Linked DNA regions of Homo sapiens: region 2 is linked to region 1. Evidence: fine-mapped expression QTL. A gene starts in region 1. The other region holds a variant in brackets. All regions are shown on one strand. Distances are between the middles of the regions. Region 1 holds the start of LIMK1 (LIM domain kinase 1). Region 2 has its middle 39 kb from the start of EIF4H.

Region 1 (2,897 bases):
CCTATCACAGCCTCCTTTCTTCCCTCTCCTGCCCAGGAAGAAGTACTAAGAGGGCCCTTCAAAGGCAGGGACTGGACAGGGCTGGATTAGTGCATCCTGGGCTGAAGCCAGCTGGGAGGTCAAGGGCAGGAAGCCTGGAGGTGCCGGCCCTAACAGATCCTTGGCAATGAATGCCCTGGCTTGGCAAGGGGAGGGGGCTGCAGACCTGGGTACTCCCAGACACCTGTCCCAGGGAGGCCTGGCACCTCCTCTAGCCAGCCACAGGCATGCTTAGTCATCCTTGGGGCCTGGCACCCTTGGAGCTGGTGGGCCCTGGAAAATGCCCCAGACCTGCCCCTCTCCACTGTACAGAAGGGGAGACTGAGCCCCAGAGATGGCATGGCTTGCCCAGTCACATAGCTAGGTCCCAAGGCCACAACAGCCTGACCCTCTGTGAAGACGCAGGTACCTTAGGTAGGCAGGGGCTACAGGAAGGTGGGCCCCTACCCCAATCAGGTTTTCATGGGCCTGGGAAGAGTTGGTGGCAGGGGGAGGTGTGGAGTCAGGCCCTGCCTTGGGGCCAGGTGGATCTAAGTGACAGGTCAGCGAAGGAGATCCAAGGAGGGGCCCCCAGACCCTGTCCTAGGCTGGGGGAGTCCTTGAACCCTAACTGCAGTGCAGTACTGCGCCTTGGGCCCCAGTGAGGGAGAAGGGGCTAAAGAGGAGGTTAGGATGAGTCATGCTCCCAGCCAAGACTGAGGGCAGGCACCGGGTTTGGGGCACGGACAGGGAGAGTGGATGAGGCTCCCGCAGTACACGGCCTCCGGCTTCCTGGACGCCTATCTCCGCTCTACCCATCTGGCCCCCAATCACCGACACCGGGGGGGCAACTACCCAGTTTCCAAATGTACAGAAGGGGAAACTGAGGACCAGGAAGTCAGCGCCTGGCTCAAGGTCACAGAGCCGGGCAGGCGCCCGGCGGCCACTGGGACCCGGGGCTGCGGCTTCCCCAGCCGCTCTTTCTTCCGAGACTGGATAAAGGGTGGCCCCAGGGCGAGGCCCGGGTGGTGGACAGAGCACGCGGATGGAGGCCGACGCGGGGTGGGCAGTGTCTGGGAGTCCTTCGCGGGGGGACGTGGGAGGAGGAAAAAGGGTCCAGGGGCCCCCAGACCCGCAGGAGGGCAGCTCGCCGGGGGCCGGGGAGGGGGATCCCGGGCGGGAGGGGGACAGGGAGGGGCCTGCGGGCTTCGTAAGGACGAGCTCATCCCGGAGGAGGCAGGGGCGCGGCCTCCTGGCAGACCCGGCCCCCTCCCGTGCCCCACGCTGCCCCGGGCACCCCCTCCAGGCCCTCGCCCCACACCCCGCGGCCCGCGCACCTTCCTCTCCCATACGTTCTTCCCTCCAGGTGCAACAAAGTAGCGTCAACCTCATGCACTCGACGGGGGGCGGGGCCCGGCGGGGCTGGGGCTGGGGGCGGCCGGGCCCGCGAGCTCGCCCACCGCCGCCGGCCCGGGGAGGCGGGGGCGGAGGGCGCGGGCCGGGCCGGGCCGGGCCGGGGGCGCCTCTCGGACACCGGCGGGGAAACCGGCTCGGCGCCGCGGCGGCTTGGGGAGCGAGCGGAGGGGCGGACCGAGGCGGGGCCTGTGAGCTGCGGCACGGGGGCGGGGCGCGGGCGGCCGGCGGCGGGAACGGCCCTGCGCGGCCCCGCCCCCACCAGAAAACCCCGCCCCCACGCCCAAGGCCACGCCTCTAGAGGCCACGCCCCGCTGCGGCCCGGCCTGGGGGCGCCGCGAGCTGGCGCGGCGCGCCCCGCCCCTCCCCGCCCCTTCCGCCCTTCATTCATTCTTCTTTCTCCCAGCGACAGGCCTCGGCTGGGAGCTGCGAGGCCCAGCTGTCTCGGAGGGCCGCTAGCTCTGCTGGGGCAGGCCAGGAGGATGTAGGAGCCTAGAGAAGGGGCCTCCGCTTCCCTGCGCGAGGCCCCCACAGACCCAAACCAGCTGCAGCCGGGAACTCGGATCAGAGCTGGAGAGGCCCTGTGGACCCCCAGGACACTGGTGGTCGCCTTGGGGAGGGGAGGGAGGCGGGCCGGGTTTTGTCCCTCTCTCTGAGGCCTGCATTGAGGCCAGGCTGGGCCCGGGGAAGGTGACGGTCCGCGTCTCAGGCCTCGCGAATGAGCAGCACCAGAGAAAGGAGCGAGCCCCTGCCAGGCGGTGACAGGTGTACTCTTCTCAGTGCCGATTACCTGGAGCTGGGGCTGCCCTGCCCAGGGTCCTGGAGGGAGCACGGGTTTGGGCTGAGTCAAGCGTCCAAAGGAATTGGGTGGTCCAGTCCAGCACTGATGGTGGAACGCCCTGCCTAGATGTGGACAATTCTAGAATGCTGGACATGGGCAGGAAGCAACCCTGTCCCCCCTAGGTCTACCTTCCACGTCATCCCTCTGCCCAGGAAGCAGTGACCGGAGTGGAGCCACGTGCCCACGTGAACCCAGTGAACAAGAGGCAGCGCTAGCCCAGCTCCAACTCTAGTCATCATGTTTGTGGGGAGAGGTCTAGGCACGTCTGCAAAGTGGGGGGCACTCACCCCTGGGTGCAAAACAATTACGTGGGGTGGGAAGAAAATACTAGATTTTTTTTTTCTTTTTTTAGATTCGGTCTCGCTCTGTTGCCTAGGCTGGAGTGCAGTGGCGGGATCTCGGCTCACCGCAGTCTCCACCTCCCAGGTTCAAGCAATTCTCCCACCTTAGCCTCCCGAGTAGCTGATATTACAGGCGTGCACCACCATGACCGACTAATTTTTGTATTTTTAGTAGAGATGAGGTTTCACCATGTTGACCAGGCTGGTCCTGAACTCCTGACCTCAGGTGATCCACCCTCCTCGGCTTCCCAAAGTGCTGGGATTACAGGTGTGAGCCACCACGC
Region 2 (2,897 bases), 51 kb before region 1:
AAAATACAAAAAATTAGCCGGGCGTGGTGGCACGCGCCTGCAGTCCCAGCCACTCGGGAGGGTGAGGCAGGAGAATGGCATGAACCTTGGAGGCGGAGGTTGCAGTGAGCCGAGATTGTATCACTGTACTCCAGCCTGGGGGACGGAGCGAGACTCCGTCTCAAAAAAAAAAAAAAAAAAAAATTTAAGTAAAAAAATTTGAATATAATAAACTAGTTGCAGCGGGTGCAGTGGCTCATGCCTGTAATCAGTCCCAGCACTTTGAGAGGCTGAGGCGAGTGATCACAAGGTCAAGAGATCGAGACCATCCTGGCCAACACGGTGAAACCCTGTCTCTACTAAAAATACAAAAATTAGCTGGACGTGGTGGCCTGCGCCTGTAGTCCCAGCTACTCAGGAGGCTGAGGCAGGAGAATCGCTTGATCCCAGGAAGTGGAGGTTGCAGTGAGCTGGGATTGCGCCACTGTACTCCAGCCTGGCGACAGAGTGAGTCTCAAAAAATAAAAAATAAAAAAAAAATTACTTAACATAAGTAAAGTATTTCCCTGAGCTCTGTGAGCCATTCTAGAAAATTATCTAACTCCAGGAGAGGGTTTTTGGAAACCCCAGCTTTTAAAAAAATTATTTCTTGGGGCCGGGTGCAGTGGCTCACGCCTGTAATCCCAGCACTTTGGGAGGCCAAGGTGGGCGGATCACGAGGTCAGGAGATGGAAACTATCATGGTTAACACGGTGAAACCTTGTCTCCACTAAAAATACAAAAAATTAGCCGGGCGTGGTGGCGGGCGCCTGTAGTCCCAGCTGCTCGGGAGGCTGAGGCAGGAGAATAGTGTGAACCCGGGAGGCGGAGCTTGCAGTGAGCCAAGATCGCGCCATTGCACTCCAGCCTGGGCGACAGAGCGGGACTCCATCTCAAAATATAATAAAATAAATAAATAAAAATTATTTCTTTATATTTATTTATTTATTTTTGTTTCAACAGGTTTTTGGGGAACAGGTGAACAGGTGGTATTTGGTTACATAAATAAGTTCTTTTTTTTATTTTGTATTTTTTTTTTAGACAGAGTCTCGCTCTGTCACCCAGGCTCGAGTGCAGTGGCTTGATCTCAGCTCATTGCAAGCTCTGCCTCCCAGGTTCAAGTGACTGTCCTGCCTCAGCCTCCTGAGTAGCTGGGATTACAGGCATGTGTTACCATTCCTGGCTAATTTTTGTATTTTTTTAGTAGAGGCAGGTTTTCGTCATGTTGGCCAAGTTTTTTTTGTTTTTGTTTTTTTTTTAATAGAAATATGGTCTCACTATGTTGCGCTGGTTGGTCTTGAATTTCTGGGCTCAAGCAGTCCTGCCACTTAGGCCTCCCAAAGTGCTGGGATTACACATGTGAACCATCACACCCGACCTGAAAGCAAGCTTATCAGGAAAATAAAGGAATAGCCGGGCGCAGTGGCTCACGTCTGTAATTCCAGCACTTTGGGAGGCTGAGGCAGGTGGATCACCTGAGGTCAGGAGTTCGAGACCAGCCTGGCCAACCTGGTGAAACTCCATCTCTATTAAAAATACAAAAATTAGCTGGGTGTGGTGGTGCATACCTGTAATTCCAGCTACTCGGAAGGCTGAGGCAGGAGAATTGCTTGAACCTGGGAGGCAGAGGTTGCAGTGAGTCAAGAT[T/C]GTGCCACTGCACTCCAGCCTGGGCAACAGAGCGGGACTCTGTCTCGAAAAAGAAAAAAAAAAAAAGAATAGGAAAGGAATAAAGAGTGACTCCTCCATAGGCAGAGCAGTGGCATGGGCTGCTTGACTGAGTATACTTACAGTTATTTCTTCATTCTATGCTAAACGAAGTATGGGTTATTCATGAGTTTTCCAGGAAAGGGCAGGGATTTCCCAGAACTGAGGGTTCTTCCTTCTTTTAGACCATATAGGGTAACTTCCGGGTGTTGCCGTGGCACTTGTAAACTGTCATAGTCCTGGTGGGAGTGTCTTTTAGCATGGTAATGTATTATAATTAGTGTATAATGAGCAGTGAGGATGACCAGAGGTCAGTTTCATCACTGTTGGTGGGTTTTGGGGCTGGCTTCTTTACTGCGTCCTGTTTTTGTTTTCTTTTTTTTTTTTTTTTTTGGGATGGAGTCTCGCTCTGTTGCCCCGTCTGGAGTGCAGTGGTGCGATCCTGGCTCACTGCAACTTCTGCCTCCCGAGTTCAAGCAATTCTCTTGCCTCAGCCTCCTGAGTAGCTGGGAGTACAGGTGCCTGCCACCATGTCTGGGTAATTTTTGTATTTTTGGTAGAGACAGGGTTTCACCATGTTGGCCAGGCTGGTCTTGATCTCCTGGCATCAAGTGATTTGCCCGCCTCAGCCTCCCAGAATGCTGGGATTACAGGAGTGAGCCACTGTGCCCTGTCAGCATCCTGTTTTATCAGCAGGGTCTTTGTGACCCGTATCTTGTGATACCAGTCCTGCCAACCTTCTGTCTCATCCTGTGAATAAGAATGTCTCACCTACTGGGAATGCAGCCCAGCAGGTCTCAGCCTCATCTTACCCAGCCCCTATTCAAGATAGAGTCACTCTTTTTCAAATGCTTCCTTCCAAAAACAAAGGATAACAGGCTGGGCGCAGTGGCTCATGTCTGTAATCCCAGCAGTTTGGGAGGCTGAGGTGGGCAGATCACTTGAGGTCAAGAGTTTGAAACCAGCCTGGCCAACATGGTGAAACCCCGTCTCTACTAAAAATACAAAAATTAGCTAGGGGTGGTGGCACATGCCGATAATCCCAGCTACTCGGGAGGCTGAAGCAGGAGAATCACTTGAGCCCAGGAGGCGGAGGTTGCAGCGAGCCGAGATGCCATCACTCTACTGCAGCCTGTCCAGCAGAGTGAGACTCTGTCTCAAACACACACACACAC

The links. PIP is the estimated chance that this variant, and not a neighbour inherited with it, causes the effect.
Region 2: its variant is fine-mapped to the expression of LIMK1 in whole blood (INTERVAL, PIP above 0.99).

The regions. Positions count from the first base shown.
Region 1 is chr7:74,082,504-74,085,400 of GRCh38, reverse strand. LIMK1 (LIM domain kinase 1) reads right to left here and starts at 1,597. Exons shown (of 16, transcript NM_002314.4): 1 at 1,356-1,597. The coding sequence starts at 1,410. RefSeq lists enhancers at 1-272, 784-1,053, 1,540-2,218, 2,114-2,223, 2,219-2,897 and silencers at 1,244-1,293, 1,404-1,453, 1,574-1,843.
Region 2 is chr7:74,133,449-74,136,345 of GRCh38, reverse strand. No RefSeq gene overlaps it. Among named protein-coding and RNA genes, the nearest start is that of EIF4H, 39 kb to the left of the region's middle. RefSeq lists an enhancer at 2,496-2,897. The variant T/C (reference allele first, on the strand shown) is at 1,666.